4 linked regions of the Homo sapiens genome follow. The protein of the gene in region 4 interacts with the protein of the main gene of each other region in a pairwise test. Each region holds a gene or a part of one and is shown on either strand. Other genes may lie near its edges. The genes, in order: C1QTNF4, TRAF3IP3, PLOD3 and L3MBTL3.

Region 1 (6,986 bases), on a different chromosome or scaffold from region 4:
ACCTGTAATCCCAGCACTTTGGGGGGCCAAGATGGGTGGATCACGAGGTCAGGAGATCGAGACCATCCTGGCTAACACAGTGAAACCCCATCTCTACTAAAAATACAAAAAAAAAAATTAGCCGGGCGTGGTGGCGGGCGCCTGTAGTCCCAGCTACTCAGGAGGCTGAGGCAGCAGAATGGCGTGAACCCGGGAGGCGGAGCTTGCGGTGAGCCAAGATCGCGCCACCGCACTCCAGCCTGGGCGACTGAGCGAGACTCCGTCTCAAAAAAAAAAAAAAAAGCGCACAGATACCAGTGGGTTTTCACCATGGAGAACTTAACTCTGCTGGAGTCTCTCTGAGTCTGAAACATGACCTGGAATTGGGAATTGGAATGCTCCCATCGAGGGACCAGAAAGCTGGGGTATTTACCCCTAACTCTGGACCATTGGCTGATGGTTGCTCTGGGGGTATTAACTCTACAGCCCTTTGGGCCTGCCCCACACTAACTCCCATAGCTGAAAATGCCCTCAGGAGGGACACAGGAAGTAGGCGCCTGGTCAGGAACTGTCTGTGGGTGCCCTCCTGGTAGGCCTGGAGGTGTGGGTGGGCCACTGACAGCATCTACTACACTCAGTGAAAGGAACCTGCTATTAAAATTATTGTTGTTGGCTGGGCACCGTGGCTCACGCCTGTAATCCCAGCATTTTGGGAGGCCGAGGCAGGTGGATTACTTGAGGTCAGGAGTTCAAGACCAGCCTGGCCAACGCCATCTCTACTAAAAATACAAAAATTAGCCTGGTGTGGTGGCATACGCCTGTAATCCCAGCTACTCAGGAGGCTGAGGCAGGAGAATCACTTGAACCCAGGAGGCGGAGGTTGCAGTGAGCCGAGATCGCACCATTGCATTCCAGCTTGGGTGACAAGAGTGAAACTCCATTTCAAAAAATAAAAATAAATAAAAATTATTGTTGTTTATTAGCTGCCACGTGGTGGCAGGCTGACGGGGGAGGATCACTTAAGCCCAGGCTGCAATGAGCCAAGATCGTGCCACTGCACTCCAGCCTGGGTGACAGAGTAAGAACCTATCTCAGCCAGGCGCAGTGGCTCACTCCTGAAATCCCAGCATTTTGGGAGGCTGAGGCGGGCGGATCACCTGAGGTCAGGAGTTTGAGAACAGCCTGACCAACATGCAGAAACTCCATCTCTACTAAGAATACAAAATTAGCCAGGGTGGTGGTGCATACCTGTAATCCCAGCTACTCAGGAGGCTGAGGCAGGAGAATCACTTGAACCTGGGAGCGGGAGGTTGCGGTGAGCCAAGATTGCTCCATTGCACGCCAGCCTGGGCAACAAGAGCAAAACTCCATCTCAAGAAAAGAAAAAAGAACCCGTCTCAATTTATATATATTTTAATGTTAATTTTTTTAACTTTTTTTTTAAGTGATGGGGACAGCTGGGCGCGGTGGCTCACGCCTGTAATCCCAGCACTTTGAGAGGCCAAGGCGGGCGGATCACGAGGTCAGGAGTTCCAAGACCAGCCTGACCAACATGGTGAAACCCCGTCTCTACTAAAAATACAAAATATTAGTCGGACATGGTGGCGCGCTCCTGTAATCCCAGGTACTCAGGAGGCTGAGGCAGGAGAATCGCTTGAACCCGGGAGGCGGAGGTTGCAGTGAGCCAAGATCGCAGCATTGCACTCCAGCCTGGGCAACAGAGCGAGAGTCTGTCTCAGAAAAAAAAAAAAAAAAGAGAGAGAGAGATGGGGTCTCACTCTGTTGCCCAGAGTGGTCTCAAACTTCTGAGCTCAAGCGATCTTCCCACCTTGGCCTCCCAAAGTGCTAATATCATAGGCGTAAGCCACCATGCCCAGCCATACCCGTCTCAATTAAAAAATAAATAAAATAATTGTTGTTTAAGACCAGCCTGGGCAACAGAGTGAGACCTCGTCTCTACAAAAAATTTTAAAAAAAATTAGCCAGGCATGGTGACCTGCACCTGTAGTCCCAGCTACCTGGGAGGCTGAGGTGGGAGAATCACTTGAGCCCGCAAGGTCAAAGCTGCAGTGAGCCAAGATCATACCATTGCACTCCAGCCCAGGTGACACAGCAAGACCCTCTCTCAAAAATAAATAAAATTGTGGCTGCAAAACAAGAGAGGAGGGAGCAGGGACTATAACCAGCCTAGGGCTTTTCTCTGGATCCTGCTGCCACCTCTTCTTAACTCCCATTCTGGAGCCCACCCATCTGCCTTACACCCACCAGCTCATGGCATCATCTTTCTCTATATCCCTTTCCCAGTGGCTTCCTCCCTATCCCAGTCCCCTGATGCAAATCCTGATGTCATCTGCCCCAGCCACCCATCTCTACCTCAACCCTCACTTCTCTGGTGAGAACTCTTGTGGATCCAGGGAGTGTCAAATCCCAGCCTGAACCAAACCTCAACTGAGATTATATTATCCTATAATATACCTTCTCCCCTCCCCTCCCCTCCCACCATTGGAATCACCCTCAGGAGAGCAGCTCCACTCTTCTCATCCAGAAGGGGCCCATGGCCCTAAGAAGGGCCATAGATTGCCATAGGTTGGCTTTTGGCATCCCCCAGCTCTCCTTCGACATCCCTGTGTGGCTCATCCCACCCTTACCCTGCTTCTTGTCCTCCCCACAGTCCTGTGGCCCAAGCTTTTCAAGTTGGTGAAAGAGACAGTTGTGATCTGACAAGGGCTAGACAGGTGCTTCACCCTCTGTCACCAAATACCCTCATTATCCAGCCCAAAACACCTCCATTCATTCCTTTCTATTCTGGCACATATTCGTTAATTCATTCCATCATTCACCTAACACCCTTGAAGCAGAGCCAATCACCTCTACCAACATCTTCCTAGAGACAAATAGATTAACTGGGGTGGGGTAAACTTTGAGAGCTCCAAAAGGAAAGCTCCAGAGGACGGGGGTTCTGCAGGGGTCCAGGCCTCTCAGGGACCACAGAGCAGACCTGCAGCAGAGGCAGAATTAGAGCCCATGGCTCTGGAGTCAACCAGGGCCAGGCAGAGGGCACCAGCTCTTGGCTGCTGAAAGTAGAGCTCTTCAAAAGTCATCCACTCAGTCAGCATCTACTGAGTGCCAGGCAGTGTCGTCACCTCTACAGCCGTCAGGGGAGAGAACAGCAGCCTAGAGAAAGGGAGTCTGAGCCCCCATCCCACGGGCTCGAAGCCCAGAGTAGAGGCCAGCACTAGTGCCTCTGGTGAGTATTACCATGGGAAGACCGCTGTTCCCAGCCCGGGTGCCCTGCTGGACTCTTGCTAGCCTGGCCCCAGCGAGGCAGGGCATCAGTTTCCCTCTCCAGAGGCCTTTCTTCCCCACCTATTGCCCTCTCAATCCTGTCCCTTCTTGCAGGAGCAACCTTCCCAGCAGAAAATTCCATTCTGCCCCAAGGACTCTCCTCCTTACTGCCCCTCACCCCGGGGAACGCAGGCTGCCCCTCTGATGCCTGCAGACTCCCTTCTCCCTCTTTCCTAACCGACCGTGGGCATTTTCCAATTTGGAGGTGAGGAGGAAAAACTAGGTTATTTTCAGCTCTTCCTTTACTGGCAACATTGACCCATTTATCCTTCTCTTCCTTCAGACCTCTCCCCCAAGGCCACTTAGCTTGGACATCTGTCCCAGCCAAAATCTCACCTTCCACTGTCCTTGCAGCCCAAAGGCTAGTCCAGCCTCTGAGTCCAGCTCTAGCCCTCTCTCCCCACACTAGGAAGGAAGCTGGACTGTAGAGCGCTCTGGGCCACCCCGCGTTAGCTGCTGCCTCTGGCCTCAGTTTCCCCAACTGCTCAGATTAATGATGCCTGCTCTCTAGACCCAGAGGACGAAGCTCTAAGGAGGTCACAGATGAGGAAGGGTCCAGTGCTCGGCGCAGACTCCGTGCGGAGCCCCTAGGCCCCGCAGCTCGCCCCTCCCTCTCCCCTACTCCCCTCCTCTCCCCCTCCCGTCTCTCCCCCGCCTCTTCGCTCTCGCTCGGCTCCCTCTCTAGCTGACCTTCCCTTTCCCTCACGCCTCCCCACGCCCGGCCCCTGGCCCCAGCACCCTGTCCGCTGCCGCCTCAGAGCCGGGAAAAGCAGCCGGAGCCCCCGCCGCCCCTGCCGCAGCGCGGGCGGTCAGCGCGCAGCCCGGCACCCGCAGCCTGCAGCCTGCAGCCCGCAGCCCGCAGCCCGGAGCCAGATCGCGGGCTCAGACCGAACCCGACTCGACCGCCGCCCCCAGCCAGGTGAGGGCAGCTGAGGGGAGGCAGGGAGCCGAGGTTCCCCCTTTACTGGAAGCGAGGGCTGGGGAGGCGCGGGGAAATTGGGTCCTTTTTCCTTGAAAGGAGGACCTGGGAGCCTTTTCGTGAAACAGGCACAAGGGCTTTCATTCCAAAGGGATGGATGGATGGAGGGAAGGTCTCGGGGGAGAGGGATTGGTTTTTGTTTTTTAAAAATAAGGATTAATTGGCTTCTGTGAAAGTGGGACTTCTTGGAAGGATGAGGGGCTTTCAAGGTAGGTTGGGGAGGGGGCTCTGGCAGGGCTTGAGGGAAGGGTTAACTGGTGAGTGGCAGGGCAAGGGGGAACTCTGCGATCCCCTCAGCCTGACATCGCTGCACCTCCCGCCTTGGCTCCGGGGCTCTGGGTCTCTCCAGCTCTGTGTCCCAGTTTTTCTCTTTGAAGATGACTATTTTGAACCCCACCTGGACAGAGCCAGGAACAGCCATTTCCTTCCCTGGAGCTATGACACCCACCTGACACACCCTCCCACACCTCTGACCTGCTCAGGGAAGGGGGTTCAGGGAAGGACGAGGATCCAGGGATCTGGGAATTGGGCAGTGTGGGTGAAACGGAGGCTGGGTACTGGGTGCACAGGAAGACCCTTGGCACTGGTGGGGTGCACCAGCCTTGGTCAGGAGGTTGCTGGGCAGCTGCTTCTGGGGCAGGACCCACTAGGAAAGCAGCGGTATGGAAAAGCTGAGCTGTTTTCCGTGTTCCCAGAAGACAAAACACTAGAGAATGTGTTTGCTTGCTTTTGTTTGGTTTTGCTTTCTGTCTTCCTCACCCTGGATCCCAAGACTCATTCCTCTGATCTCCTCTCCTAGTTTTGCAAAAAGGTAAACTGAGGCACAGAACAAATTGGCTGGACATACCTGTGTCTAGGAGGGAAGAGTGACAGGAAGGCATACGGAATTTGAGTCAAAAAACCTCAGTGCTCCATGGGTGACCTTGGGCCAAAATGCTTTCCCTTGTTGGGCCTCAGCTTTCTCATCTATAAAATGGGAGACGGCCCACCTGTCTTGTAGGTTTGCCAAGACCATGTGTCTAAAAGAACTTTGTAAAAGGGAATGCACTGGACACTTGTGAGGTGCCATCTTCACCACTGTGGATGGCCCCTTCCCTCCTCCCTGTCCTAACCAAGGGACACCTAACTAATCCATAGGACACCTTTGTGAGAATTACAAAAAGCACCTCCTCTGGAAGGAGACAGCATTCAGTTGGCTAGCAACTTGGGGTCTTTAGTATGAGAATGAGAAGGTGGCATACTTTACGCCAGGTGCTGCTCTAACATGTGGAGTGTGAGCTAGATTCTAGCTGGGACGTTCTGCACATCTACACCTGACAACCCTTCTCAGCAGGTCCCTGCTGTCTCTAAGAGACACAGAGCTACACATACAGGGCATTTTCTAAAGCAGCCCACATCCCAGGCTGTCTCCAGCTCATTTCTTTCCTGTTTTGTTTCCACATCAGGGCTTTTGGGTATTCAAGCCCCAAAGCACGTGCCCTACTAGGAAGCAGGATGGAATCCCTACATCAGAGAGTGACTCCTTTGAGTTAAGCAGTGCCTTCACCAAGCTCTCAGGGGTAGGAGTGACTGAGTCCCTAAACCCTTACGTCAAGAACTGGACCAGATCACTTTTGTCAGGGCAACCGACAGAAGCATCTGCACACCTCAGCACTGCCGTTGACAAACCATGTTCACACCTATCTCAGCACACCCCCACAGCAAGCCTGTGTGTGAGGTCTCTTCCCCATTTACATGGAGGAAGCCATGCCCAGAGAAGTTAGGGAACCTGCCCAAGGTTTCACAGTGTGAGTGGTAGAGCCAGGACCTGAACCCAGATCTGGCTATCTGTCCTCTCCAATCCATCACTCCCAAGGAACAAAGCTGCTGACTTCACAGCCTTGCCAAAGCCCTGCTGGAATTGTTGCTGTCCCTGTCCATCCCCAGTAGCCCCTGGCTCGCCACTCCTTCTTCTGAGTAACCAGCCTCCAAGCAAAGAGAAAGGAGTCACCTTCTCTTTTACTCTGATTTCAAGGGGGAGGAAGCTACCTCAAAGCCCAACTGTTCTCGCCTCCTCTGTGCAGGAAGGGCCCCTGGTGAGGCCAGGAAAGGGGTCAGGGAGCAGCGATTTCCTTTCCTGCTCAGATGGGGCTTAAACAGTAACGGTCATGCAGAGCGTTGACACAGAGAGCCAGTGCCTGCGTGAGTGGCAGACCAAGGACCATAAAATAACCACAGGAAAATGCAGCCAACTGGAGCTGAGGGGAACTCAGAGACTCCCCTGAATCCCCCGGGTTACCAGGGCCCCTGAGTGTCAAATGGGAGGTGTAGGGGCAAGCCCAGCAGACAGGGCTGTAGGCCTCTTTAACCAGAGTGTTTCTGCTAGTCTGTGTTCAAGCTTTCACTTAAGAAAGGGGTTTCGGCCGGGCGCGGTGGCTCACGCCTGTAATCCCAGCACTTTGGGAGGCCGAGGCAGGCGGATCACAAGGTCAAGAGATCAAGACCATCCTGGCCAACATGGTGAAACCCTGTCTCTACTAAAAATACAAAAATTAGCTGGGTGTGCTGGGTGCAAGCCTGTAGTCCCAGCTACTTGGGAGGCTGAGGCGGGAGAATCGCTTGAACCTGGGAGGTGGAGGCTGCAGTGAGCCGAGATCAAGCCACTGCACTCCAGCCTGGCGACACAGCCAGACTCCGTCTCAAA
Region 2 (7,025 bases), on a different chromosome or scaffold from region 4:
TCCATCTCAGGAATCTAGAATTAAATGAGAAGAATGTTTTTGAACCTCAATCTTACTTTCGAGAAACACCACCAGATAGAGAATAACACACCCATTCCTACTTACCCATTTCTGGCTTGGCCATTTACACTTTAGTCTCTAATTCACTAGATCACTGTCTCCATCCTTCTTCCTCTCCCTTTCTCCCAGTATCCTTCTCTTTGCACCCTGGAGGAATCCCAGCACTAACCAGTTTGTCAGCTCCAGGGGAACCTTGAGAATACCTGACACTGTAGGGGAAGGCCCTTGGTAAAGACTCACATCACCCAGACAGCCCTTTACGCATCCTAATCTTTGAACAGATGAGTTAGATGTTATAATGAAGTCTTACAAAATTATTTTCATTCCATGGGTAACTTTTTTCTGTTTTTTCTAGCAACCCCTGGAAGAATGTAAAAGCTCTTTTACTTGGCTCTTCTGTAACACCATTTTCCAGCATTAGTAATCTCTTGATTGGCCTAATCTTGGTTTATAAGAGATAGAAAGAAATCAGCTTTCACATTTGAGAAGTGATGGATACCTGACAGGTGGGAAGATATCAAATCAGAGAATGGGGTGAAACAGGCAGAATTCTCCCATCTGGAGTTAGAGAGAGAAGACAGTCCTGGCCACATTGATGGCGTCTTACAGGGGAAGAGAGTTTATGGAGTCTATAAGTTTCTTGGTCCACAACTTTCATTTTTTCAGTATAACTTGCTTTGTCAGGACTAAATAATGCCAACCAAGTTCACAGGAGACTAATATATAATCCAGAATGCCAGTCTATTCATTTTCAATAGGGAATAACACATAACCAGTGCCCAGCATGGATGGTCATTGGATGTCCAATAACTGGGACATCCCCTACATATGACCTCAACCAGGTTAATTCCTGGATCTGGTTTTTAATGAAAGTTCCAAAACTATAAGACCCACTCAAATTTAAATCCAAAATTTCAGACAATTCCAAAGCTAAATGGAAATGATTTCATATTGATCCCTAAATTGTTGTCATCTGGTCTACTGCTTACACAGTAGGTAATCCAGAATTGACAATAAAATCTGCCTGCCTTCTCCGAAATCACAGGGCATAAAGATGAAAGAAAGGGAGAAGGCAAGACCCCCAGTGAATTTGCAAAGCTGCGCTTGTGTCTCCTTAATCCTGCAGCCAGGAGGAATTTTATAATGCAAATGTATTAATTTTAAAACATGAAGTTCATTAGGCATTGTAAAGAAGCTACAATGATTTTTTTTTAAAGCAGCAGCAGTATGCTCCCTCCCTGAAGGAGTTTACAATCCAGTATGAAAGACAGATGAGTCAATAGAGTAGAATAATAGAGGCATGCAGGGGATACTATGTGAACACCATGAACCCTAAGAAAAGCTACCTAATCCATAAGACATTGTGGGATGGGGGTAGTTGGTCAATTTATCAGAACTGATGATACTGGACTGAATCTTGAGTATTAGTAGAAGTTAACTGGCTGTAGGCAGAAGAAGCTACATGGGTAAAGGCAGAGCCCCAAAAAACAGAGTGCTGGGGGATCTGCAAACATCTCAGCTTAGGTGGAAGTAGCATGGGATGAAAGTCTAGGCGTGTAAGAGGAGCCATGACAAGGAGTTTGGATGTGATTCTTAGTATGCTGAGAATCCATGGAGAGATTTATACAGGAAGTGGCAAGATCAGATTTGCATTTTAGAAAGAACCCTCTAAATGCAGAACTGAAAAGGGACTGAAGGGAGGCAAGATTTGAAGAAAGGGAGGCTGTTGCATTAATCCACATAACACTACTACTAGAGCCTGAACTAAGGAAGCAGCAGTAGGGATAGAGAGGAGACAGATATGAGCTGTTAAGGAAATTGTCAAGGCTCAATGACCAACTGATTAGAGGGGGAGGAAGTGAGAGAGAAAATGAAGATTGACTCCCTGGTTTAGGGTTTGGAAAAGCCTGGATGGATGATGATTCTGGTCACTGAGATAGGAACCCCAAGAAAAAAGAACATGTTTAGAAAGATGAGTCCTGTTTAGACATCTTGGATTCCAAGAGCTTGCAGAAGGCCTCAGATATAATGCCCAGGAAGCCTAGGGCACTGTTTATTATGCCCTCCACTCATCTCTCATTGCCTGAGGGACTCTTCTTGCTAGCTCTACCCTAAAAGAAATGGCTCACTAGATTACTGGTATCTCTGCCTGGGGGAAGAACCAACTTCTTTTCATTTCTGTATCCCAGCTCAGGATTTGGCACACAGAAGCTCAATGTGTATTTGTTGAATTGCATCAAATTTACAGAAATACTCCCCTTGGGGAATGAAAAAAGTACTACTGGAGATGGAAGACCAGAAAAACAGCTATGAGCAGAAGGCCAAGGAGTCACTGCAGAAAGTGCTGGAGGAGAAAATGAATGCAGAGCAGCAACTACAGAGCACACAGGTATGGGGATGCCACATAGACATGGGGCTGGGGACTCCAGGCAGCTTGGGGAACAAGGGGAGCCAGCTGCACAACTCCCTGGAGCCCTCTCCTCTCTGATCTCCCTCAGCGATCCCTGGCCCTGGCAGAGCAGAAGTGTGAAGAGTGGAGGAGCCAGTATGAGGCTCTGAAGGAGGACTGGAGGACCCTTGGGACCCAGCACAGGGAGCTGGAGAGCCAACTCCACGTGCTTCAGTCCAAACTGCAGGTACCAGGCACTGGGGGTGGGGAGGGAAGACAGGGTATGGGGAGGAGGGATGGTGATGAAAGAAGCTGTTCTGGATTAGGGACTCCAAAGGCAGCTGACAGCATCTGGCTTTCAGTTCCTCAGTCACCACTACTTTGTACCAAATTCACTGTTTTGGCTCTGAAATCTAATTTTGAGTTTAGCAAGGATGTCTGCATTGCTCATGCAAATGAACTAAGCGTTCATTGGAATGACACCATCACCACCCAAATGAAAAGAACTGGCTGGAATATTCATCAGCCTACTAATGTCATCTCCCAACCCACTCTCCAAACTCCATCCCAAAAAAGCATCCAGTTCAGAATTGCCCACTGTTGGCAAAGAAAGAATGTCACTAATTTATTTACAGGTGAGTATTAACACTTTCTGCCAATGTGTATTTTAAGCAATTACATTTAGCAATTACAATTAGATTCTTGGCATCCTCAAGGGTTCCATCATCTTCAATCTGTCCTAAGCCTCAGTTTCCCCATCTCTAAAATGAGGATAATAGTACCTACATCATAAGGTGGTTCTGAGTATTAAGTAAGATGATCCATGTAAAGCACTTAGCACAATGCCTGGCACACAAAAACACTCAGTAAATATTAGCTATTATTTTGCATAGATTTATTTACCTGGTTTGGAATTTTGAGGATCCACCTCAAAAGCTGATCTTTGTAATTTTCCTGAAGCAGGGCTCAGAACAGCCCACTTGATAAGAGACAGAGTATGTGAGTCTTATCAAAGGAGTGAACCCAGCTGGTCACTCTGCGTGGTATCCACAGCTCAACCTTTGTTGTTTTCTTCTTCCCATCACCTATAAGGCAACTCCTATGAAGATTTTTGTGAGGGGTTTTTTAACTTTAAATCTTTGTGGAAAAAAAAAGACCCTAACCAAAAAAAAAACTGATACTGCCAGAAGTAGAAAAAAGAGAAAATGAAAACATCCAGAAAACTAATGACTTTGTATTCCTTAATTTGGTGATTTACCAAAGTGTCAAGACATGACTCCCACACCAATGACAACCACTTACATTTCCCCTAGAATGGCAGATTTTTTAACGTACTGGGTTTCCTAAAGCAATTCTTATTTTATATATTCTAATTTATGTACATGAATGTGTCACTTAGACCTGTCACTAGGGATGGTTTAGAAAATAAACTTACACTGCACATGCCTCAGTCCACTTCAAAACTACTGGCAAATGCCTGTAGTCCCAGCTACTCAGAAGGCTAAGATGGGAGGATTGCTTGAGCCCAAGAGGTCGAGGCTGCAATGTGCTATGATGGCACCACTGCACTCCAGTCTGGGTGACAAAGTGAGACCCCATCTCTAAAAATAAAAATAAATAAATAAAAGACGCGAGTTCCTTGTGAATATCAAAAGTCTAATCTGCTGTTATAAATATGAGGAACAAAGCAAAGGGAAGAAATAGGAAAAAAGAAAGACTTCTCTATTTTCTCATCTCCCTAACATTCCTTCTATCTCTAAAATTCCAGACTTTTCTACATTTTCCTCTTCCATGGTACCCGCCCCCCAACCTCCACCCCAACACTGACCTCCTTCTATATTGGCCCTTCCTCCTCCTTACAGGGAGCAGATAGCAGGGACTTACAGATGAACCAGGCCCTGCGATTTTTGGAAAATGAGCACCAGCAACTGCAGGCCAAGATTGAATGCCTGCAAGGGGACAGAGACCTGTGCAGCTTGGATACCCAGGACCTACAAGGTACTCTTCTCCTTGGAGGCCTTGAGTGCATGGCAGCCATGGCCAAGTGAGCTAAGAAAAAAGAAACTGAATTAAGAGAAAGGCTTCAGCCTTTTATTTGTTTGCTTGATTGGTTGATTGGCTTTATAATCTCATTTTACCTTGAGGGAGAGGCAGGACTGTTTTAATCATCCAAAATTGAAAATTAATTTCACTGTAGTAGATAGAGTATCTTGTTGTCTGAGCTCTCTTTTTTAGCCCATCCCTCTGGGCCAGATCACAGCTGCTCCCACATCAGTCACATATGTCAAGGCCACAGTCCTAATTTGAAAGGGAAAGGTCAGTTGAAACACAAGGCATAGAGAAAGTCTCTCAGTCACATCCTCTGTGTCCGCTGATAGAGAGGACTAGATAGTGTGTAAACACAAGCCTCAATGCAACCCAACATTGTTGATGCACAAAAACCTGAGGTACTTGGCTTCTGGTTTACCTCTTCAGAACTGGGACACGAAGATAGAGCAACTTCCAATAGACACACGTTAAAGACCATGACAAGACAGCATCTATTACTAATTTCCATCCTAAGTACTGAGTTCATTAAGTCTTGGGTTCCTTTATTTTGGCTTGCATTATTGCATTTTCAGATCAACTAAAAAGGTCAGAGGCAGAGAAACTCACCCTGGTGACCAGAGTACAGCAGTTGCAGGGTAAGTTCGCTTTCCAGATTCTGAAAGTCCACAGGGTTTTCCTGGGGTCCTGGCCCACAAAAGGCACCCAGAGTAGGGACTAAGGGCCCAGTCTTTGGCATATGCTCTAACTCTGTGCACTTTCAGACCCTCTTCTTGTAAAGTGAGGTCATTTACATAGCTCTCCATAAATTATGTGTTAGCCTCTGTTCTTTTTTTTCTACTGTTCTCCTTCCATGCCAATGACACCACTTACATTTCCCCTAGAACTGCAGATTTTTTTTAAATACTGGGTTTCCTAAAGCAGTTCTTATTTTATATATTCTAATTTATGTACATGAATGTGTCACATAGACCTGTCATTAGAGATGGTTTAGAAAATAAGCTTACACTATACGTGCCTCAATCCACTTCAAAACTACATATTGGGCCCAAAGAGGAAAAGGGACTTCTCAGAAGAAAAGCAGTTTCTGAAAAGCTGGAGAACCTGACTCAATTAATACAGCTGCTGGTTGCCCACCACTTTAACCTCTGACACCTGATAGAGAAGCTTCATGAAAGCAGCAATGATTATTAAGAGAGCAAAGCAACCACAGGGAAAAGGGAAAATCTTCAAGCAAAGACTTGAAGATAGAGACATGGTAGGGGGAGATATAAGGATGCTATATTCATAGCAAAGTACCACAGACTGGGTGCCTTGAAGAACAGAAATGTATTGTCTCACAGTTCTGGAGACTAGAAATCCAAGATGTCAGCAGGGTTGTTTCCTTCTGAGGGCGTTTAGGGAAAGATCTATCCCAGGGCTCTTTCCTTGGCTTTGTAGATGGCCGTCTTCTCTCTGTGTCTCTTCACATTGTCTTTCCCATGAACATATCTGTGTCCATATTTCCCCTTCTTATAAGGACACCAGTGATATTAGATTGGGGCCCACCTGAATGACCCCATTTTAACTTGATTATCTTTTAAAGAATCTATCTCCAAATAAGGTCATTATTTAAGGTACTGAGGGTTAGGACTTCAACATATATATTCTGGGGGACAAAATTCAACACACAGCAGATGGGAACATATTTAATAACCAAGGTTCTAAGCAAAGTTCTGAAAAGAAAACTTTTTGTAGTAAATATGCTAGCATAGACAAGTTCCTTGTGTTTTCCAACAGGTTTGCTTCAAAATCAATCCTTACAGCTTCAAGAACAGGAGAAACTCTTAACAAAGAAAGGTCAGCAAATTTATTACCACAAATTCTAAGATATTGCTCTTCTCTTACCTGCCTAGAGGCAGCGGGATGGACTACATGACCTCCTGGAGTCCCAGCCAGTTCTGGGAGTCTGTTAAGTCCGGGATGTGTGGGAGCTTTTTAAGGACTGATCATTGGCTCTGAGGACACTTCAACTAGTTAGCCTTCTATCTTGAGGTATATAAACTGTGAAAAAGGGTTTCTATTCTCTCTGAAAGCACATGTCTGTGTTGAACATTTCAATAAATTTATTTTGAACTCAGGATTTCATGTCAATTTTTACACACTTGATTTTCCAAATCACATCCAACTCCCCAGCCCCAAACCACATAGCAGTCCAGAGTCAACTCACTGTTAGCCCTAGAGAGTCTACTGTCCATGTTTCCTGAGAATTCACTGTGTATACAGAGGGGCAATAGCTCCTCACCTGTCCACTACACACGACCTTTTGTTTTCTCTTCACAATCATTGGGCATAATATAATAGATAAGGCAGAAATTTTTATGCTCACAGAGTATGGATAAGAACATGAAAGTCTATGGTGACACAAACTAACAACACAGCTATAACAACAATCCAAAACTTCTGACTCCTAGTCCATGCTCTTTTCACCAAGACTAAGACTGCAGGGTGGCTAAAAAACCATCTTTAACCATATGAAGATAAATTTTAG
Region 3 (7,025 bases), on a different chromosome or scaffold from region 4:
CACCTTGGTGTGGTAACCGGGAAACAGGCTCTCGGTCATGGGGCCCACATACGTCCGCAGCAGCTGCAGCCACTGGTCCTCGTACCCCACCTGCTTCATGTGGATGTCCACGGTGGGCACATTCTCGTAGCCTCCAGCCAGCCTTGAATCCTGGGGGCGGCGGGCACTGAGCCACCCGCCCCTCCAGCCATGGCGCTCCCCACCCCAGGGCAGTCCAGCCTCCTTCCTCCCGTCCTCCAGCCTTCACACCTGTGTTCCTCTGTGCAGAACAGTCTTCTTTGCTACTTCTCGGCCTGACTCACTGCTCCCGGCCCTTCAAGTCTCAGCTAAGATGTCACCTGTCCTGTGAAGCTCCCTACTCCTCCCAAGTCTGGGTCAAGGCTTCCCCGTGGCTTCTATTGCACCCAGGCTGCTCATCGCAGCCTTAGAAGCTGTGTGGTGGCTGCTGCTCACAGCAGGGCAGAGCTCGACCGGCATGAGGCATTCCTGCAGTGCAGTCTAGGACAGTGGCCCAGGAATGATTTCCTTTTCTCTTTTTTTAGAGACAGAGTCTTGCTCTGTCACCCAGGCTGGAGTACTGCGGCATGATCATAGCTCACTGCAGCCTCTAACTCTGGGGCTCAAGTGATCCTTCTGCCTCAGCCTCCTGAATAGCTGGGACATGCCACCATGCCCGGCTAATTTGTTGGTTTTTCTGAGATGGAGTTTCACTCTTGTTGCCCAGCCTGGAGTTCAATCTTGGCTCACTGCAACCTCTGCCTCCCGGGTTCAAGCAATTCTACCTCAGCTCCCGAGTAGCTGGGACTACAGGCGCCCGCCACCATGCCCGGCTAATTTTGTGTTTTTAGTAGAGATGGGGTTTCTCCATGTTGGTCAGGCTGGTCTCGAACTCCTGACCCCAGGTGATCCACCTGCCTCGGCCTCCCAAAGTGCTGGGATTACAGGCGTGAGCCACCGCACCTGGCCCAAACTCGGCTAATTTTTAAATTTTTTGTAGAGACAGGGTCTCGCTATGTTGCCCAGGCTGGCCTCAAACTCCCCCTGCTCGAGCAATCCTCCCGCCTCAGCCTCCCAAAGTGCTAGGATTACAGGCATGAGCCACTGTGCCCAGCAGTAAATATTTCTTGAATACATGAATGAATGCAGTTGTGACCCCAGGGTCTGCCTCCCCCCTGGGAACCCCTCTTTGCTCCCATTTTCCTGATTCCATTGTTTGTTTACCAGATCCTGCACCTCCTCCTCTGGGAAGGCCTCTGCCCTCCTCGCCCAGGCCCTTACCTCATGCCGGCCGCCTGACCACTGGCCGTAGTGCTCCATCTCTGCCACCAGCTCATCACACATTTGTTCTGACAGCAGTGGGAACCAGTACACGTCCGGGCATGGCTGAGGATGGGGCGAGGGAGAACAGGGCTAGCTGACGCCGCAGAACGGGGAAGGGGACAGGCAGCAGGCAGAATGGGAAGGGGCAGGGAGGAGCAGGGAAGGCTTTGTGAGAGCAGCCGGGGACCCGCCAGGTAGGGGCTGAGGGAGTGGCAAGGCTGAGGACCGGTTTCTGGCACAGGAGAGGTGGCAGAGGGTCCTGGAGCCCCTCGTGCTGGGACAGTGGTTTCCAAACTTCCGTAACAGTGCATACCTCTTTTTTTTTTTTTTGAGATAGGGTATTGCTCTGTCAACCAGGCTGGAGTGCAGTGGCACAATCATAGCTCACTACAGCCTCGACCTTCTGGGCTCAAGCGATCCTCCCGCCTCAGACTCCCAAGTAGCTGGAACTACAGGCACATGCCACCATGCCAAGCTAATTTTTTCTTTTCTTTTTTTTTTGAGACAGGGTCTCGCTGTGTCACCCAAGGTGGAGTGCAGTGGCGTGATCTTGGCTCACTGCAACCTCTGCCTCCCAGGTTCAAGCGATTCTCCCACCTCAGCCTCCCGAGTAGCTGGGACTACAGGTGCACGCCATCACACCTGACTAATTTTTGTGTTTTTTTTTTTTTTTTTTTTGGTAGAGACAGGATTTGCCATGTTGGCCAGGCTGGTCTCGAACTCCTGACCTCAGGTGATCTGCCTGCCTCGGCCTCTCAATGTACTGGGATTACAAGCATGAGCACCACTCCTGGCCTCATTTCTTATTTAATTTTTTTGTTGTTGTTGTAGAGACAGATTCTCGCTATGTTGCCCAGGCTGGTCTTGGACTTCTGGCCTCAACCGATCCACCCACCTTGGCCTCCCAAAGTGCTGGGATTACAGGCATGAGCCACTGAGCCCAGCCCCATTCTTCTTTTAAGATGTGATTTCAAGCATAACACCAGTATACCCAATATACAGGAGAAGAGGCTGTCTGATCAATGCTGGCTTTGGGGGCAAGAGTCCTTTCTGTTCGGCCTCTGCCTTCATCTTGTCTGAACAGAAAACCCTCAGATCTCTGGGGAACTCAGTGTGAAAACTTTGAATCCAGGCGGGGGCCCCCAAGAGGCGATGGCCATGAGGGCAGGGGGTGGGTGGGGAGGCTGCGTGGGCTCACCTGCTCCACGATTCCTTCCCCTTCCAGGGCCCGGCTGTAGTTCTCGTGGATGTACTGCTCCTTCCAGTCCTGTGAGAGGGTGGGGGGCACATCAGATCTGTGCCCCCCTCGCTCCCAGCCCCCAGGGGACCGCCCCCTCCCACTCAGTGTCCTGCGCTGGCAGCAGCCATCACGTTTGGTGTCTTCCTTAGCACAAGGCGGGGAACCTGTGTGCTCTGGGCGTGGGGTCCCCACTCACGACGGGGTTGTCGAAGATCTGCCAGAGGTCGGGGTGCAGGTGCTCCGTGTCGTATCTGGAAGTGGCCAGGAGCCGGCCAAATTCATGCTGATTGCTCAGATGGAGGAAGATGCCCTGTAGTGGGGTGGGGGTGTCCGTGATGCAGGCGATGCCTGGAGTCTGGGGGACTGCCCCCAGGCCAGACCGTGCACCCGCGCTCACCTTGTCTCGAAAGCTCTTACAGAAGGCCATGTCCGGGTCTGTGTCACTGCCCGAGAACACATCCCTCTGGGGCAGCTCCATCCGCAGGGTATCACCCCGGATCACATAGGCCTGGGAGATGTATGGTACATTCCACACACCCCTGGAGGCACCGACACCGCGGTCAGCTGGGAGGACAGCCCCCCAAATTCTGCCCAGCTCATCCCGGGAAGTCCTTCTTCCCTCAGGGTATCCCAGTCCCTGAACATAAGGCCCCTGCATGTCCCTTGTCAAGCACTGCTGGTCCCAACCACCCCACCTCCCAAAATGCGGTCAGTTCCTACCCCAAGCTGTGGCACTTCTTTTTTGTTTCTTGTTTTTGGTTTTTGAGACGGAGTCTTGCTCTGTCACCCAGGCTGGAATGCAGTGGTGTGATCTTGGCTCACTGCAACCTCCACCTCCCAGGTTCAAGCAATTCTCCCACCTTAGCCTCCCAAATAGCTGGGATTAGAGGTGCCAGCCACCATGCCCGGCTGATTTTTGTATTTTTGGTAGAGATGGGGTTTCACCATGTTGGCCAGGCTGGTCTCGAACTCCTGACCTCGAGTAATCCACCTGCCTCTGCCTTCCAAAGTGCTGGGATTACAGGCGTCAGCCACCGCGGCCGGCCCTTGTTTTTTATTTTCTTGAGAAAGGGTCTCCCTCTGTTTCCAGGCTGGAGTGCAGTGGTGGAAACATGGCTCACTGCAGCCTCAACCTCCCAAGTTCAAGTGATTCTCCCACCTCAGCCTCCGTAGTAGCTGGGACCACAGGCACGCACCACCGTGCCCAGCTAATATTTTAAGTTTTTTGTAGAGATAGGCTCTTGCTACGTTGCTCAGGCTGATCTTAAACTCCCAGGCTCAAGCAGTCCTCCTACCTCAGCCTCCCAAAGTGGTGGCATCAAAAGTGTGAGCCACTGCAGCCAGCCTCATGGCACCTCTGACTGGTGACCACTCCAAACCCCTGAGAGTAGGGGGCTTGGGTCTACCTGGGCCCCGGGTCGGAGGAGGCGGGGGGCTGCAGGCTGGCGGGACTCACACTCGCTTCCGCTGCACCAGCTCCACGTAGTCCTCGGAGCGGGCGTAGTACTCATCGGGGCTCAGGGCGCCCCAGAAGTTGGACCACAGCTTGCCGTGGCGGGACAGCATGGGGGCGATCACCTTCCTGCGGACAGGTGGGGGTGAGGGCTGGGCAGACGGGAGCAGGCCTGGGGAGCCCGGTGCCCAGGGCAGGAGTGGGGTTCCCGGGGCCTGTTGGGGTGCCCTCCGGCTGCGGGGAGAGGGGGTAAGCCACCTGTTCTCCTCAATGAGGATACGCAGGGTCTGCAGGTTGGTGAGGACAGCGTCGGCGTCCAGGCTGAAGTAGAACTCACACTCGGGGTCCTGCCGACACAGGTCCCTGGAGGTGAGAGGCGAGCTGAGACGGCGGCAGGTGGGGAGGCGGTGTGGATGGGGTAACTGGCCCATGCCCCCAGGAGAAGAGGAGGGAGGCAGTGTCTATCCTTCCTTCCCCAGGCTCTCTGCTGTCTGGGTGAGCTGGCAAGGGCAGGAGTGACAGCATGGGGGCTGCAAGGATGCGAATGGGGAGGCCCAGGAGGGGCTGGATGGGTGACAGGTGAGGCAAGGGCCAGGCAGCAGGTGGCAGCACCCCTGACCCTACAGCCTCATCCCACCCTCTCCTCCCCGCAAGCACCCGCTCACATGGCCATGTCCCTGGCCTCGCCTGGGCTCAGAGCCTCCTCCGGCCCCACGAGCTTCACAGCTGAGAAGTGGTCCTGGAGCTGCGGCCAGGAGTCAGCGATGTGGGGTTCATGGAAGACCTCCTGGGAGGGGAAGACATAGGGGGATGGGCTCAGAGGGCAGGGAGGCGGCACCTGAGGGATGGGGGTGCAGGAAGGAGATGGGGGTGGGGGCACGAGAGTTCTGATCAGGGCAGGGAAAGGGTCCCTCAGGAGAGGCTCCAACAGGGGAGTCTCACGTTGTTGTGCAGGAAAAGGGTGACCCTGTCGGGGGGATAGTCCAGGAGTAGCAGCCGCTGCAGGAAGCGGGGCAGAAACGGAGTAGGCTGTTCCACAAACACGGCCAGAAACACCCGGGGGGGAGGCTGGAAGATGCAACACGCAGGGACTCAGAGAGAAGCCCGGACTTCCCTGCTGCCCCCACCCAACCTCCACCCTGACAGGTGCAGGGACCCAGGAGCGATGCCCCCACCGCCCCCCAGTCCGCTGTCCTTGTACCTCCTGCTCAGCACGCTGCCCTCTCGTGCCCCTCCCTGGCACCCCCACCTCACCTGCCCCCCCGGGAGTGTCCTCCGGTCCTGGTTGCAGAAGCCACAGCCTCCCTCAGGAGTCCAGCCATTGGGGACGTAGTTTCCCAGGTAGTTGAGCTGCAGCTGTTGGGGACAGACTGAGGCTGAGTGGCTGAGGCCTCCAGGGGTGGAGGTGGGGGTCAGGCACCTCTGATATGGGGGCTGGGAAGGGCCAGCTTCTCAGAAGGGTTGGAGGTGCCTGGGGGTTGGGGCAGGGCGGGGCGGGGGTTGAGACCACTGGTGGCACCTTAGTGGGACCGTTTCCATGGACCACAATGGGGAGCGTGTCGTAGGCCACGTTCCGGATACGCACACGGTTCCGATCAAACTTTAAAACCACTTCATCTGGGGAAGAAAAAGGCCAGGCTTCAGACCCCCTTTCTCTGGGAGCTACCAAGCAACACATTCTTCTAAATATGGGGTCCCAAATTCTCCAGGGAATAAAGGGACACCAGGGCTATCCTGGAGTGTGGCTCGTTGTGGGCAGGAACCTTTGGGTTCTGACCAGGCTGCTGGCCCAGAGAGCTCCACTGCCTACTACCTGCGTGATCACACCGCAGCTGGGCGAGGAAGGGGAGGGTGAGCTGAGCGGGAGGCCAGTAGGAGCCTCAGCATCCCTACCCCTCCTCATATTCTCTCTCTCCTTGTTTTTTTTTTTTTTTATTTTTATTTTTTGAGATGGAGTCTCACTCTGTCACCCAGGCTGGAGTGCAATGGCGTGGTCTCGGCTCACTGCAACCTCTGCCTCCTGAGTTCAAAAGATTCTCTTGCCTCAGCCTTTCAGGTAGCTGAGACTATGGGCACATGCCACTACACCTGGCTAATTTTTGTATTTGTATTTTTTGTTTTTTATGCTGAGATGGAGTCTCACTCCCAACACGCAGGCTGGAGTGCAGTGGCACGATCTTGGCTCATTGCAACTTCCACCTCCAGGGTTCAAGCGATTCTCCTTCCTCAGCCTCCCGGGTAGCCAGGATTACAGGCGCGCACCACCATGCCCGGCTAATTTTTGTGTTTTTAGTAGAGACAGGGTTTCACCATGTCGACCAGGCTGGCCTTGAACTCCTGACCTCAGGTGATCCACCTGCCTCGGCCTCCCAAAGTGCTAGGATTACAAGCATGAGCCACCACACCCAGCCTAATTTTTGTATATTTAGTAGAGACTGGGTTTCACTATGTCAGCCAGGCTGGTCTCAAACTTCTGACTTCATGATCTGCCCGCCTCAGCCTTCCAAAGTGCTGGGATTACAGATGTGAGCTGTCGCACCTGGCCTTTTTTTTTTTTGAGAAGGAATCTCACTCTGTCACCCAGGCAGGAGTGCAGTGGCGCAATCTCGGCTCACTGCAAGCTCTGCCTCCCGGGTTCCAGTGATTCTCCTGCCTCAGCCTTCTGAATAGCTGGGATTACAGGCACCCGCCACCACGCCCAGCTCATTTTTGTACTTTTTTTTAGTAGAGACGGGTTTTCGCCATGTTGGCCAGGCTGGTCTCAAACTCCTGACCTCAAGTGATCCTCCTGCCTGGGCCTCCCAAAATGTTGGGATTACAGGCGTGAGGCACCGTGCCTGGCCTCTCTCTCTCCCCGTTCTCCCCATCCCCTGAGGCAAGTCACCAACCCCTCCACAAGCTGTTTTCCTCATCTGTACAAGAAGGATAACCAGGGACCTTCCCTTTGTTAAATGGAATCACAGAAGTAGACCGGGCACAGTGGCTCATGCCTGTAATCCCAGCACTTTGGGA
Region 4 (7,025 bases):
GGAGAGATGTGAAATCTGTCCTAAGGACCTAAGTTCATAGATTTTAGGCAGGAAAAACTCTAGATCATTATTTCAATGTGAGAACTGAAATCTTAGCAGCATCAAGAACAAATCCTTGAGAAGTTGGGTCTTCTGTTCTCATCCATCCCTGCAGAGGAGACACCTGAGTGTGAACTAATCCATGCTGCCTTTAAACATGAAATCAGTCATTACAGCGGTTCCATCTTATTGATATTTTCTCAAAAACACTGTCCCTTTATCAGCTAGTCATATTTTAATGTGAATGATCCTATTTATAATGTTGCAATGGTCTCTCTGATTTGCTACCTTGTCTGCCATGGAGATCATGTGCAAAGAAAGGGTAGTCACCAAAGGTAACCTTTACAAAATCTCAACTTCCTGCCCTTCTGTGTTACTGTAAGAAGGATGAATTATTTGAGATTCTGTGGCCTAACCTACTTACTTCCTCTAAAGAAGGAACAGAAAATGAAAAATGCCTTTCAAGAAAAAAAAAAAAAAAGGTACACAGAAAGTGAAATCACAAACTGACATTAATGGGCCTATGGCATATTTAATAGACTCTCATTAAATGCTTTTATTTTAAATTCATGTTCAACGTGCAGACTATACCTCAATTTGAGTCAGACATATTTTTTAAAGTGCTAGCATATCATCAACATACTATACTAGAAGGGTAATAATAGAAATTTTACACCCATTAGAGGGATTCAAGGGCCATAAAAAGAACAAGAACCTGACACAGATATTTCTATGCATATGCTAAATATGCATGAACTAAAATTTTAAAAGAAAAACTAAAAGTACTCTCTTGTTCTTTTTTATTTTACTTCATAATTTTTAATGCTAAAAGTAGTATCTTTTTTCTTATTTTGCTTCATATTTTTATAGAACATAAAGCTAAGATTTACACTTGATTTCTCTTTTGCATGTAATGAATTAGATTTGGCTAGATTTTTCTTTCACAGAAGTCTACAGGCTTATCTTGATAACCATTTGTAGCCAACCTCCTTATCAATAGACTGAACAGCTAAGCCTCAAGTCCACCCAATTAGACCACAAACCAATACGGTGAATTACTAAGATCATTTAACAACCAGACCAGATTGACCACCTAGGAATTTCAATTCACTATTCAGGGTTCAACAGTGTAATGGATGGAGAAAAATAATCAACTGATTTTGGTACCTAAGCAATCATACCCAAAATGTTCTAGTAACTAAATTAGCTTAATTCCACAAAATTTATGTAATATAAAGCTATGGTCCAGCCTTTAAAAGGTCTGGTACATAGTATACGCTCAAAAAATGTTTTAAATAGAACTTCAACAAAGGAGAAACAGCCCATTACCTTGTAATCAATGCCTACAATGGCATCCTTCTAAGTCAAACTGAAGAACTGCCTGATCCACCGTAACTCATATAACAGAGAGATATAATTCCCATTGCAATACAAAACCACCCGATGAGTCAAAATAGACTCTTCACCTCATTTTGCAAACATGGGACATACTCTTTTGGTTACAGTGTATAACACCAGTAATTATAGCACTCTTGCTCAGGATCTTAGTCATATTCCCTGTTTTCATCTTTTACTTTGATTCTAGGACACATTTCTACCACACCACCCCTCCATTTTCTCCCCACCATTGTCTCTCTTAATTTTCTTCTTTCCTTTTACAATCCTGGCTTTAGAGTAAATTTCATAACCTACTGAGCCTGCCTTGGTAGATGCAGGTCCCATTCTTTCATTGATTGATGCTTTATATATATATTTTTCATAACTAGTCCTACTACCTTATTGGGTCTCTTCCTATAGAGAACAAATGAAATCTTTATATAAGTAAGCCCAGTGATTCCCAAGCCTATTCTGAGTAATGTTTTATCAACAGTTTGTGATCATTTCAAGGCCATGGGCTAGACCAAGGTGTTCTTTTCAGAATAATTCAATAATTGGTCTTTTCTCAATTCTTGGTTTTAAAAAGAAAAAAAAAAGAAGAAAGTAAAGCCAGTTTTTCTTCCCATCTATTTTTCTTATACCTGTTCATTATTGCTCATCTTAGTAAACCAATGTAAAAGAGCACATACCTTAATCTGGAAATGTGTTGTTTTTAAAATATTCTATGTGTTACTATTTTGAAAATCAAAAACCTAAAGACACATCAATCATATGCCAGTATCATTTTCCCTGATTCCACCCCTTTCAAACTGCATGATATGAACAAGTTACTAAGTAACTCTGAGCACCAGTTTGCTCTAAAAGACAAAAAATAATACCCAGTGCTCAAGGTTAGTGAAAGTATGAGAGGTAATAGTCAGTGCCTAGAACAGTACCTGGGCATACAGAAAGCACTCAAAGTATTTTTTGGATGAATAAATAAATATAAAGCATCTAGCTTAATGCTTGATCTTCAGAAGGCACTCGATATACAATTGCACTTAACATTGTATATCAACACTTCATAGGGTTTTTAAAAGAGCAACCCCATCTGCCGGGTCCTATCACAGGAACACATTTACCACCACATCCAGAGATGCCATCACAGTGTCTACAGCATTTATCTACCATTCACCCACACTTAACCATGGCTTTGTTTTGTTAATTGCCATCGTATGTGTATGGGTTATCTCCCCAACTAGATTAGGAATATACTGAGCCCAAGGATTGATGCTCGATGTCTTTGTAGCCCCAACACATACATTCATTCAACCCTGCTGTAATTGTTGATTTTGTGAAGCAGTTCACAACAGTAATTTAGACAAAATAGAGGTTCAATAAGTATCTGTTGGTGGAACACAAAACAATGATTTACAGTATATATGGGAGAAAGAATAATAATGCAGAAGGCATTTTACTGTTACATATAATATACATATCATTCTTATAATCACCATCCAACTAATCAATTCCAAGTCTACTCAGAAAGAAACTACAGTTTATGAGGAAAGTTCCCTCATCCAAGATCACCCAACTTAACTTTACTCAAGTTCCTCTCAAAGATCCTTGTTCATTCCTCCAAACTATCTTGTCTCCCAAATGGGAATTTTCTAAAGGTCTTTCCCAATTTTACTTCATAAATCAAGCTTAGTTATATATCAAGGATACCCTTTCTTGGTGCTTCTTTTCATCCACCCACTGCATAGCTGCCACAGTCAATACAAATCCGTTCATCATTTCCCACTATTGACTTACATCCACAACCACCAATGAAATAATTTAATACAGTAAAGAGATAATCTGAGAATATTCCTGTTAGATAATGAAGCCCTTTAGAAAATATATCTTCCATGGATCCGCTGAACTTCAAGATGTCACATATAAATGTGCACCCATATGAACATATAAATAGTTCTCTCTAAAGACACTATCTTTACCTATACTATAAGCATTCCCAAATCCTTGTGAGGAACAAATCCCTCAATAGTGGCAAGTGGTAACAGTGGAAGATAGTGTAGATCTTCACCAGAAAGTTACCTTGTGAACACACTGGTCAAAGAAAGAATCGCCTCAATCCATCTTGCTAGACTCTTGCTAGACATTCCTTGACTGTGGGTGAAGGGCTTCTTACTCATTTCTGAAGGCGAAGCACTAAAAAAGGAATGCATTATATTGTGCCATGTGTATTGGATGATATGCCATGGTCCTGCATCAGTTAGCCCAGAAATCCATGTTTCCTGGTTCAACAGCTCCAAAGAGTGCTAGAGCCCTCATCCTTTCCTAATGGTACCATGTGCAACTGTTATACTATTATTAGAAGAGCTCATTATGTCTAGTCCCAGAGTAAGGATCTCTAGAACTCCTCAAGAGCAAGGATCTCGTCTTTTAAGTGTTCAACACCATAAGAGCTCAGAAAAAAACTGGTTAAGTAACTAGTAGAAACAATACCGCAGGGATCACTCAAGTTATCCATCCTTGGGATGCCAACGGTACATCCCACCCACCACATAAAGTAAGTTCTCTCATAAATTCCCCATCCTAACTGCACTACTATAAACAGCATTGGCTGAAATATGGAATTCTTAAAAATAAACTACCAACCCAGTCAAAATTCTTTAAGAATCAACTCTCAATTACTCAGGGACTAATTAAACAGGACATATACTTCTTTTTTCCACTCCTATTGGGTTTTTGGATTCTTAGAACATTGATTGGATAATCTCCAAAGAGTGGAGATGAAGTAAAACTAAAACCTGTCAGGGTTTATTTTGTCAGGTTCAGTAGCATCAAATCAAAAATAATAATAGATAGTACTTACAATTTTTTTAATCTAGATTTTACATAGTTGGCTATAATTAGATTGCAGCCAAAGAGGTCTAGAAAACAAGGAGGAAAAGCCCTACTTGGACATTTCCTAAATTCAGTCATTCGGAGGACTCATGTTCTGGCCCCTATAGTTAGTTTAAATCATTACTACTCCAGTTACCTATTTTCTCATCCTCATCTCCCAGCAGACTCATGCAACTAAAATATTAATTACAGTACATTAATTCCCCTCACACCAACCCTTCTACTTTCATCACCCTACCATTTTCACAATTAGGCATCATTTTAAAGTATTTCTTTCATTTACTCCTTCTACTTATTAAATGACTAGTTTGGGATAAATAAATTTCCGGTTTTGTATTCCGCACCATGTTAGAGCATGGTCTCTTCCCTCAAAGAGCCAATAGTATACAAGGGAAACTACTTTTTTCTCAAGACAAGATATACTCCTAGAAATATTCCGAGAAGTCCATACAATACACACATCAGAAACCAATCTAAAAGTTTTAGCCAAGTGTTAAATCACTATATTCTGACTTAGACAATCTACCTCCAGCCCTTCATAAAGCTGGACGAAGGTAAAATGATATGACCACTATACATCTGAATAACTCTTTATGGTTCTCAAAATCTGATTTTATTTGATTCTTTTAACAAAAGATGCAAGGCAAGTATTGCTGTTCCCGCTCTGTAGATGAGGAAATGGAGGCTGAAGGAGGTAGAGTGACATATACAAGGTGATATATCTAGTTATTACATTTAGTCTTCTGATTCCTATTCTAGCATTCTATCCACAGACACAGTGACTCCGCAGACAAAGAAAAATAAGCAGTGTCTTCAACTCAGCACATTTAAACATGAAATTCACCATCTTAGGAAACTGATTTTACTCTTCTTGAACCCTAGTTGTCTGCAGGACCTTCCTATAGCTGTTCTTGCCCCATTGTCTCTGCTGCATATCCACATGGACCAGATCTACTTATTTTGCTAATTATACAATTCAAAATGATCCACAAGCAGCAAATGACAATAAACTCCTGTTAATCATTTTTATATCAATAATTAGTCATTTTGATTTCTAGATTACACCTGGCCCAATGAAGGTTGTTAGTTCTGCTCTAAAAAGGTAGGCTAATTTTGGTTTTCTTTTGTTTTTGCCAAACAAGATTTAGCGACCCCTTTATTACTCAAGACAGAGAGGGCAGGAAAACAGGCAGAAAAGGAGAGGGGAAGATTAAAGGAAGAAAAAAAAAGGTATAAACAGTAGAAAGCACTGGAGTAGCAAAAATGTACTGAAATGTTCTACCTTCAGAGATGGCTGTCCCCTCTGCCTGAGAATGACCTTTGCCCTAAAAGAAGGACCTGGAGTATTGGAAAGAAGCCAACACCCTCCAAAATTACTAAAGAGATCTTAGTAGACAACAGCTGTATTCCCTGTGGAAGTATGTTCAAAAGTTGACAAGTCTAAGCTAACACACTGAAACTCACTCATAACCCTGCAACATGGCACTTGGCACAAGTCAGCCCATCTTGGATTTAAGCCATAGAAGTTATGTGACAAATACCCCCAAAGCACCCAATGTAAATTTCATTCACAAAATTTTACCACTGGCCCCCCAAGACATTTAGAGTTCCAGAATCTTCCATATCACTGTATAACAATGTAACACTTATATTAATTTACAATCATTTTATTCCAGTTTTTCCACTTTTTCAACTCCAAAGAATAAAACATTTACTTTCAGTAGAAAACAGGTGCTAAAATGCTAATTAAGAATCTAGTAAGTAAGGCAATACAAAGATTATCCAGGACAATCTCCTAACTTCCTAATGTTTCATCCAAACTACAATTACATTTAGTGTCAATACATTCATGCATTCAAAGCAGCCCCACAAAATGATGTTTTTCTGCCAACCCAGTCTCATACTCTCCTTCCTGATCTCCAAATGCAGCTTTTTAACATTTGCAGGTATGTCAAGCAATTTATTTCAACAAGTGGGTCTTACCTTTCGGCGGTGATGAAACACAGAACTCTCTGGCGATCTTCACAATTGCTGTCCACTCTCAAGATTTCTCCTAAGGGTTCTAGCATTGGTTTAAAGAGAGGGAAGGTAAAATCAAAACACTGTCATCAAAAAGAAACCTTCAAATCCACCATCCCCAGTTAAGAAGCTTACATTCTGAATCACTTAGGCATAATTTTACACCATGCCACTCGGTAAATTAAAATAAAATAAGCTGGTTCTAGATGAGTTGAAATGGATTTTAATCATTCGTATCATTCCCATGTCCTAAATTCACCCAATAACGTCTCTCCTGTTGTATATGACAGGCAGGTGAAAGTTACAAGGATCATTTGAGTCAACTTTAATTTCCCTCACTGCTTTTATCTTTAAAATTAAAGATATTTTACAGAAAACACACTGGAAAAAGAATAGATATTACATAAAATTTTTGCCCATGTATTTAAGGACTTTAAATCACAAATTATACAAGTATTCAGAAATAATTTCGTACTCAGTGAAACAAAATTACAGTCTTAGAACCAAAAGGGACTACTTACTCGGACTATACATAACTATACAGCTAAGAAACTATATAAAATTGCCTTACACTTATCAGACAGTAAAATGAACAGCTCATATAAAAGACAAATCTCAACTAAAGGTCTTTTCCATTTCTTCAAAGTTTTAAACACATTTCAACTTAGCAGTTTTCTTAACATTCAAAATAAAGTCATCAG

What was found.
Region 1: the proteins of L3MBTL3 (region 4) and C1QTNF4 interact in binary tests that used the Homo sapiens proteins (3 or more experiments, as listed by UniProt).
Region 2: the proteins of L3MBTL3 (region 4) and TRAF3IP3 interact in binary tests that used the Homo sapiens proteins (3 or more experiments, as listed by UniProt).
Region 3: the proteins of L3MBTL3 (region 4) and PLOD3 interact in binary tests that used the Homo sapiens proteins (3 or more experiments, as listed by UniProt).

The regions. Positions count from the first base shown.
Region 1 is NC_000011.10:47,591,405-47,598,390, reverse strand, and holds the start of C1QTNF4 (complement C1q tumor necrosis factor-related protein 4 precursor), read left to right. Parts: upstream 1-3,979; 5' UTR 3,980-4,243; intron 4,244-6,986. UniProt on the Homo sapiens protein: May be involved in the regulation of the inflammatory network. Its role as pro- or anti-inflammatory seems to be context dependent. Seems to have some role in regulating food intake and energy balance when administered in the brain.
Region 2 is NC_000001.11:209,773,041-209,780,065, forward strand, and holds part of TRAF3IP3 (TRAF3-interacting JNK-activating modulator), read left to right. Parts: intron 1-2,249; coding exon of another isoform or gene 2,250-2,308; coding exon 2,309-2,449; intron 2,450-2,533; coding exon of another isoform or gene 2,534-2,548; exon of another isoform or gene 2,549-2,558; coding exon 2,559-2,696; coding exon of another isoform or gene 2,697-3,084; intron 3,085-4,311; coding exon 4,312-4,447; intron 4,448-5,070; coding exon 5,071-5,133; intron 5,134-6,167; exon of another isoform or gene 6,168-6,274; coding exon 6,275-6,334; coding exon of another isoform or gene 6,335-6,363; exon of another isoform or gene 6,364-6,390; coding exon of another isoform or gene 6,391-6,413; exon of another isoform or gene 6,414-7,025. UniProt on the Homo sapiens protein: Adapter protein that plays essential roles in both innate and adaptive immunity. Plays a crucial role in the regulation of thymocyte development.
Region 3 is NC_000007.14:101,207,575-101,214,599, forward strand, and holds part of PLOD3 (multifunctional procollagen lysine hydroxylase and glycosyltransferase LH3 precursor), read right to left. Parts: intron 5,631-7,025; coding exon 5,533-5,630; intron 5,370-5,532; coding exon 5,268-5,369; intron 5,082-5,267; coding exon 4,956-5,081; intron 4,801-4,955; coding exon 4,679-4,800; intron 4,377-4,678; coding exon 4,272-4,376; intron 4,143-4,271; coding exon 4,017-4,142; intron 3,100-4,016; coding exon 2,958-3,099; intron 2,871-2,957; coding exon 2,757-2,870; intron 2,588-2,756; coding exon 2,519-2,587; intron 1,384-2,518; coding exon 1,279-1,383; intron 151-1,278; coding exon 4-150; intron 1-3. UniProt on the Homo sapiens protein: Multifunctional enzyme that catalyzes a series of essential post-translational modifications on Lys residues in procollagen. Plays a redundant role in catalyzing the formation of hydroxylysine residues in -Xaa-Lys-Gly- sequences in collagens.
Region 4 is NC_000006.12:130,021,569-130,028,593, reverse strand, and holds part of L3MBTL3 (lethal(3)malignant brain tumor-like protein 3), read right to left. Parts: exon of another isoform or gene 6,460-7,025; intron 6,368-6,459; 5' UTR 6,289-6,367; intron 1-6,288. UniProt on the Homo sapiens protein: Is a negative regulator of Notch target genes expression, required for RBPJ-mediated transcriptional repression. It recruits KDM1A to Notch-responsive elements and promotes KDM1A-mediated H3K4me demethylation.